Linked DNA regions of Homo sapiens. The protein of the gene in region 1 interacts with the protein of each later gene in a biochemical or structural test. Each region holds a gene or a part of one and is shown in the gene's direction. Other genes may lie near its edges. The genes, in order: FGF6 and FGFR2.

Region 1 (3,914 bases):
GCCAATGGGGAAGTCAGGGGGCCGTGGTGACAGTAGGAACAAGTGGTGCCTATGTCCCTCCCCATTCAGTTTACCAGCTGAGGGTAAAGACAGACATCTGGGCTTCACAGGATTTCAGAAGGCATGTCTAGGGCAACACTAAACACATGGCTTGACAGAAATTTGAACCAAAGCATCGAACCCAGTGAACGAGGCAGAAGGGCAGAGAGAAGGCAGGTAGAAGCCACAGACCAGAGGCTGGGACCCAGGGCACAGCAGAAGGTTTAGAATCAGAGGGAAGGCGGTGGTGCCTCAGTAGAGTCCTTGGGCCATGGAACTCACCCCAGGAGCTTTTCCAGGCTGCCTGCAGCCTGCAATGTGGGTGTAGAGTGTGGCTAAGGGAGCTGCCTGCTGGGACCAGCTCTACTGCTCAGGACACTCAAATCCATCTGTATGCCACTGTCATCACCCCACACATACTCTCTCCAATCCCGGCAAAATCAGTGCTAATGTCTCACCAACAGATTAAGGCCTGGATTGAAGTACAAGAAACAGGATTTTTAACTCAAGTTAATTCAATTCCCCAGCGACCCTTGTTAACTTATTCACCCTCAGAGACGTATTAATAGTTCTGTCTTATATTGTATAGAAATTTGTGCAGTGAGTTTTCTGGTAGCTTTACATTTTTTTTCTCACTTCAGTTAGACATGTAATCTATTTAAAAGTAATATGGGAATAAGATAAATCAGTGTAGGAATAACTTCCTGGCAGAAATATTTTTACTAGTTTCTGAGTGTAATATCAGCCCAGCAAAAGTTATCTGCAAATATAGAAGTTCTCATGTACATCAAAGACACTCAAGTTTTTTTTAAGAAATAAATCATTTTATGCTACTGAAATAACTCTGTGATGTGCTATTGGCATTTAAGGAGCTAAACAGACTCTATGGGCCAGCCAACTTCTACTGCAAGCATTAGACATGCACAGGCTTTAGACTCAGGCACACCTTAGAAGTTCTGGCTTTGCTACTTATTAGCTATGGTAACTCGGGCAGGTCATTTATCCTCTCTAAGCCTCAACTTCCTCATCTGTGAAATGGGAATAATATCAGTCACATGCCAGGGATAAATCCAGGGAGAATGGCCAGGGGGCTGTGTCAAAGGCCAGACACAACTTCCACCCCAGGTGAATGTCGGGACCAGGACAGTGAGCAGGCAAACCTTGCCCTTGCCCTCCTTCCCTCCACAATCTTAAAGCTCCTTGAACAACCCCCATCCCCACCCCCTGAGAATGTCTGTGCCCTCCTGCTGAAAGGGTTTGGCCTTTCAGTGTTCCCCTCCACCATGAGCTGTTTCCATGAAAAGATCTCAAGGGTGACTTGAGGCTACGGTCATCACTACCACAAGCCTTTTCCCATCCCTGCCTCTACCTATTGCCCTCTAAATAAGGAAGCCAGCGCTGCCAGGCAAAGAACTTCTGCCCAATATGGGTCCTGGGTGGCCTCTCGCCTCTCTCTTTCCCTGGGCCCCCAGCCAGCTCCCCCCTCCCCCAGAGATGCTCCCTGCTCACTTCATTCCTGCCTCATAGTTGGAATGACAGTGGCTCCCAGAACCCCTGGGGAGTGTGGAGGGTGATGGGGGTCTGGGGAGGCAGCCAGGCCCAAGAGCAGGTTAATGTTACAGCCCTGGATAAGTGAGCTGGGCGGGTTGACGTCAGGGCGATGATGGGTGGAGGGGAGGGCCGGGCTGCTGAAGCAACTATAAAGATAGGTCAAATCAAATATCATCAACTAGGGACGGAGCAAGCGGGCGAGCTAGAGAGCGTCCCCGAGCCATGGTCTCTACCGGCCGCGGCTCAGCCTGGGTCCCTCTGCTCTCAACCCGAGTGCCCGATGGAGGCTTTGGTTTCATGTCAGCAGCCTTCATCTGCCTTCCAAAAATAAGCCCCTGCCGCCATGCCGGAGGGAGAAAAACAAGAAGGGCGGTATTTTTAGGGCCATTAATTCTGACCACGTGCCTGAGAGGCAAGGTGGATGGCCCTGGGACAGAAACTGTTCATCACTATGTCCCGGGGAGCAGGACGTCTGCAGGGCACGCTGTGGGCTCTCGTCTTCCTAGGCATCCTAGTGGGCATGGTGGTGCCCTCGCCTGCAGGCACCCGTGCCAACAACACGCTGCTGGACTCGAGGGGCTGGGGCACCCTGCTGTCCAGGTCTCGCGCCGGGCTAGCTGGAGAGATTGCCGGGGTGAACTGGGAAAGTGGCTATTTGGTGGGGATCAAGCGGCAGCGGAGGCTCTACTGCAACGTGGGCATCGGCTTTCACCTCCAGGTGCTCCCCGACGGCCGGATCAGCGGGACCCACGAGGAGAACCCCTACAGTGAGTGCCAGCTGCAGCCAGTCGGGACGCTTGGGGGTTTGGGCTCATGCAGGGCTAAAAGGTGAAGGGGCCCTGCTCTAGCGGACAGGATGCACGATAAAGGGGGCAGAAATGCTGCTCACCACTTAGATGATTCCACGTGACCCTGCCTGGGTGCAAGCTCAATATACTGCGGTCCAAGCATCCTGGTGTTCTTTGCCATCGCCTTGGTTAGATCCTCAGTGGCACTAACTATTTCAGCATTACTGGCCCATCTGATGCCTTGTAAGACCATTAGGAACCATTAGTCTGGGAAGCCCCCAAGGCCTGGGTAGGGAGAATCAGTTAGTATACTTGGATCAAATTTGACACAAGCTCATTTTTATTCAGCTTCTTTCTTGGAGAAGGAAGGGAAATTCAATTGCAAAATGTCCAACTGAAGCACATCCTTCTTTTTATTTCAGCGGCTCCCTCTGTCCCCAGGTTCTTATCCTGCAAGCTGCCTGCAAGCTGCCAGCTTGCTGTATGGTTAGTCTCCTATCCAAGAAAGGATGGGGGCTGCAGGATCCAAGAAAGCCATCAGCTATGGTGTGGCTGCTGTGTTTTCAAGATTAAGTGGGTTGAGATTTGTTGAAACATGTAGAGTACACATTAAGAAGAAGAAGAAGAATCAGAATTTATTTTTTTACTCAAGTCAAGGACCTCAAGTAATTATGTCACTGAAAGCCCAGATTCAAAGCTCATCTTAAACAGATAGCTAAGTGGTCACTGCAGCCCCTAACTCTGCTATCAGAACCTTCCCTTGCAGAACTGGATTTCTAACAGCACAATGGCAGCACTCGATGAGTCCAGCAGCCAGGGTCTCCTAGAGTTAGAGGGATCATGGATGGGGCAATGGAGAGTCTGGCTTTCTAGGAGAAGGGGGATGGACTGAGATGCCCTTGTCGGCTCAAGTTCCCACTCTGATTTGCACAAGCCTTAGGTAATGTGGCCCCCCTTTCCTTGTCAGGCCTGCTGGAAATTTCCACTGTGGAGCGAGGCGTGGTGAGTCTCTTTGGAGTGAGAAGTGCCCTCTTCGTTGCCATGAACAGTAAAGGAAGATTGTACGCAACGGTGAGTTCACCAGGCCGGGGAAGTGCCAGGTTTACAAGGCTTGATGCTTACACAGTTGAAGAAAATAATATGAAGTCCTGAGTAGAGAAGTGACTATCTAAATGGGAAAGGAAAGGCTGTGAGAGGAGCCTGTGAAAGGGAGGGGCCTTGCAGCTTGTGCTTCTTCAGCCTCACGGGTGATTGTCCTCTGCCCTGGCCCGTGCTTCTTCTGTTCCCACCTGCCGGCCGGAGCCCGTGTGCTTAAACGGAAACCACAGCTCAGGGAGCCCGTGGGCCAGAGGGAAACCCACATTCTGGCATCCAGGCTTGTGAGCAGGTGTGATTCCCTGCACTGGCGAGGCCCCGAGAGCAAGTCTGTCTCTCTGCCTGGGTGCGCTGCTCCATGACACGCGCCCTGCAAGATGCCCCAGCCTCGTGCGCAGCAGGAGGAGTGGAATGGGAGGCTATTTTCATCCTCATCAGTGT
Region 2 (3,814 bases), on another chromosome or scaffold:
TAAAATGGATGTTTCCGTGATTGCTGGTTTTCCCTTGAGTGCGTGGCTCGGCAAAAACTGAGGAAGCTGAGCTGGGATTTCCTACGGTGTGGGCTTTAGGAGCAACCCAGGTTAGGGAAAAACTGTCATTTTTCATTTTGGCTTTTCAGGGCAGCGTTATTGTGAGTTTATTTCAACATAAAGTGTAAAATGGTCCCAGAGGATTTGTTTTACTGTATTTAATTCTTGAAGGAAGTTTAAAATTGTGTATACATGCAGGGAGGGACAGGTGAGGCAGAGGGAAGAAATCGTGGAAAGGGACGAAGTTCCCCGAGTGAGTCTTTGTGTAAGAATTTACATCCAACAATGTGGGTATTGTTGGAAGCAGGCCTGCTCAACCTGGGATCTGTGGATGCACTTATGGATCAGGAAGGAGGTCGATGAAGTTCTGGAAATTTTAGGTAATATTTTGTTAATGTCCTTTTGTGCATTTTTATGGGTTTATAGTTTCCATGAGCTATGAGTTCATTTGCATCCAGAATTATGAGATGGAAAAGAAAAGATGTCTTAGAGGAAGGTGCAAAACCTGGCAAAGAAGAGGCTTTGGAAAAGTATACAAGTCCCAGGCCTCAGTTTCCCTTTCTGTCGTCTGAGGGCTTAAGAAGATGATCTTTAGGGTCTCTTCATTAATAGTCATTGAATATTAATGTCCTCAGAAGTCTTCTGACTCTTCCACCAAAAGGTTGTTAGGAGATTTCCATTTGACCTGGACATAAAGAGCAATTAGCACAGGGGCTGGCATCCAGTAAGCACCGGGTGCATGGCCTTGTCGCCGTTGTCGCCAGGGAGCTGGGAACATGGGTCTTCCCAGTCCCGTGGGCTGGCTGTGCCAGGTGCCACAATGTCAAAAAACATCTAGGCTTTTGGAGACAGTTGAGAAGAAAGTTGTTTTTGGATGGAGGAGGCCCTTGGTGTTTCCAGGAAGCTGTGTTTGCTTTCTGTAGGGTCCCCACTTCCCCTCATCTGTTAGTCTAATACTGGCCACTGATTTGAGCCCTAAGACCAGTTCTTCTGTTGCAGGAGTTCGCTTTGGTGTCAGAGGTGATTAGGAAGGTCATTGAATTATAGATGAGAAAGGAGTTTTTAACAGCTGAAAATGGGCTCAGGTTTAGGCTCTGTGCTGGTGAATTGGAAGAGAGAGAGAGAGAGAGAGAGTGTGCGTGTGTGTGTGTGTGTGCGCGAGTGCGCGTGCGTGCGTGCGTGCCTGTGCCCCTGTCCATCAGTTCTCCATGATTAGAACTACTATAGCTTTGGTTAGCAGTAAGTTCCACCTTGACCTTCTGTGCACCAAGGTCTTATCTTGTAAGACTTTTTGGTTTGCTAATTTATTTGGAAGCTCAGTTTAGATAATGTCTATTGGATAGGAGAAAAATGTGACTGAGAAGTTCCAGGAAGAAGCCTGGGCCCTAACACTAGAGGGTCCTTTTCTTTTGGCCCCTCAGGGAAAGGTTATGTTTAGTCATCTTGGCTTTGTGCAATATCGTATCATATCATATGTCATATCATATATCATATATATCATTTGTCTTCTGGACACGTTCTGAAATAGTAGCAGTGGGGTTGGGCCCACTCAATTGACTTAAGAAAATAATCTCTAGAAGATTTTAGTTTTTAATATTTCAGATTAAATATGAGTTTTCCAGTTGGTCATTCATTGTTAATTTCCTTTTGGTCATTCATTGTTATAGGGCACCAGCAGAGGAGTGAAAACATGGTTATTGACTCGAAGGGGGGCAGTCCTCAATGCCAAGTACTATTCTGTTGATTAACATTATAAATATTTGAAGTCTAGTCAAGCTTGATTACCCTGAGAGGGGGCAACTCTTACTTTCAAGTTCTTCCTGACATTGTCACCTACTCTGGTTAATTAAGTCATTGTTGACATTAATGGCATCTTTGTTTACACCAACCCAGTAGGAGCTAAAATGAAAGGGCTTTTCAACCCTACACCCTTAATTACTTTCCCACCCTCCACAGAGTGTGACTCTGAAAAGTAACAACCTGAAAAAAAATGTAGTTTGTGTAGCAATTTTTTGTCAATCTTCTGAGAGGTGATGCTCTCCTGGACCAACGTGAGTTGGTCCAGAGTTCAGTAGCAGAAACGTCGAGGACAGGATCTACACAGAGACCTCCCTAAGTCAGATTTTTCCAGTATGGTTTAAGTCCTTTGTTAGAAGTATTGTAAATGCCATAATATTAACCATACGCATTTAATTGCAAGTTAAAAGAAAGGAAGAAAGAATATATCCGCATACCAAGAGTGAATGATTTAAAATAATCTTCTGTTTCGTATTATCTGCATCTTTGTTTTTCAATATGAGTGTTAATATTTAAGAGTTGACTGTAACTTGATAGTTAGCTTTGGAACAAGGACTTATTCTTGGTCAATTAAACCAAATACAGGCTTACGCAGTTAAATACACAATGAAGTACACATTCTTTATTAGTATATAAAGTGTTTCACAATTCATAGACCAAGAGCCATGTTTAATATTACTTATAGAGCAGAAATCTGGCAAGCCCAGAGAACTGGTACTTGTATCATTTTATACTGGCTCTCTCTGATTCAAATTTGGGGTATATGTGTGTGTTTCTGTTTTGTCTGTTTATTTCAACCAGTTAAAAGACAGAGCACTTACTATGCCAATGGCCCCGCATCAAGCCATAAGTAAAGACTTTATTCCTTTCAAGTCTTTCTGACCCAGTTGAGGGTGAGAATTCACAAAACCACAGCAATCCAATATGAGATGTTTTTAATATCAGACTTAACAAATAATTACATGGCTATGAAATAACTGGGGTCGTGTTTAAACTGGAAGTGTTTTGTTTAATGTTCGTAGTTTCAATAAAATGTATCCACTAGTCTTCCAGTTTGCAGACTGTTGTTTAGGTGTTTGTTTAGCCAGGGTAATTGTTAAAAACTCCCTCTAATCTAGCTTACCCTTACATTTCCATGGAAGCGAATTTTAGTCATTAAAGGAAAACATGGGAAATTGATTTTTGGGTGCCTGGCTGTTAAGCTAGGTAGGAAATATAGCTGGTGTGCTACTCTCCACTGTACTGGTCCGATTCTCGCCAGGGGGACATCTCTGTAGGCAGTTCAGAAATTATTTTTTGGAAGTTTTTTAGGCTATTCCACAGATAATTCTGATCCAGTAGGTTTTATGCAACTGTGCAAAATGCTTATGGTCTCTATTTTTTTTTCCTTGAGAGATGATTTTAGCCTTTGGTTTTTTGTTTGTTTTTGTTTTTTGAGACAGAGTCTTGATCTGCCACCCAGGCTGGAGTACAATGGTGCAATTGTACCCTCACTGCATTGTCAAACGTGGCTCACTGTACCCTCGGACTCCTGGGCTGAAGGGGTCCTCCAACCTCCTGAGTAGCTGGGACTACAGGCCTGGATAATTTTTAAAAATATTTCGTAGATATGGGGTTTCGCCATGTTGCTCAGGCTGGTCTCCAACTCCTGGCAGCCTTGGCCTCCCAAAGTGCTGGGATTACAAGTGTGAGCCACCACACCTGTCCTAGCCTTAAGTTTTGCATTTTTTTCCATCTTTTTGCTGTATCCCATATGATTTAGAGATTTTTGCTGTATCCCATGAGATTTAGAGATGGCTCTACTTTTTTTAGCTTTCCTAGCATTGAAATGCTTGGTGTTGCTAATCATACCCCATCTTTACCACACCATCTTCCTCCCTGACTTGCCTTCTTAGTGTAGTTTGGTCAAGAACTTGAGGCCAAGTTCTTTTTTTTTTTAAATTTAGCTTTTATTTTA

What was found.
Region 2: the proteins of FGF6 (region 1) and FGFR2 interact in a test that uses a peptide from one of them, tested with the Homo sapiens proteins (one study listed by BioGRID).

Annotation. Positions count from the first base shown.
Region 1 is NC_000012.12:4,443,668-4,447,581, reverse strand, and holds the start of FGF6 (fibroblast growth factor 6 precursor), read left to right. Parts: upstream 1-1,766; 5' UTR 1,767-2,011; coding exon 2,012-2,357; intron 2,358-3,345; coding exon 3,346-3,449; intron 3,450-3,914. UniProt on the Homo sapiens protein: Plays an important role in the regulation of cell proliferation, cell differentiation, angiogenesis and myogenesis, and is required for normal muscle regeneration.
Region 2 is NC_000010.11:121,588,392-121,592,205, reverse strand, and holds part of FGFR2 (fibroblast growth factor receptor 2 isoform 1 precursor), read left to right. Parts: intron 1-3,814. UniProt on the Homo sapiens protein: Tyrosine-protein kinase that acts as a cell-surface receptor for fibroblast growth factors and plays an essential role in the regulation of cell proliferation, differentiation, migration and apoptosis, and in the regulation of embryonic development.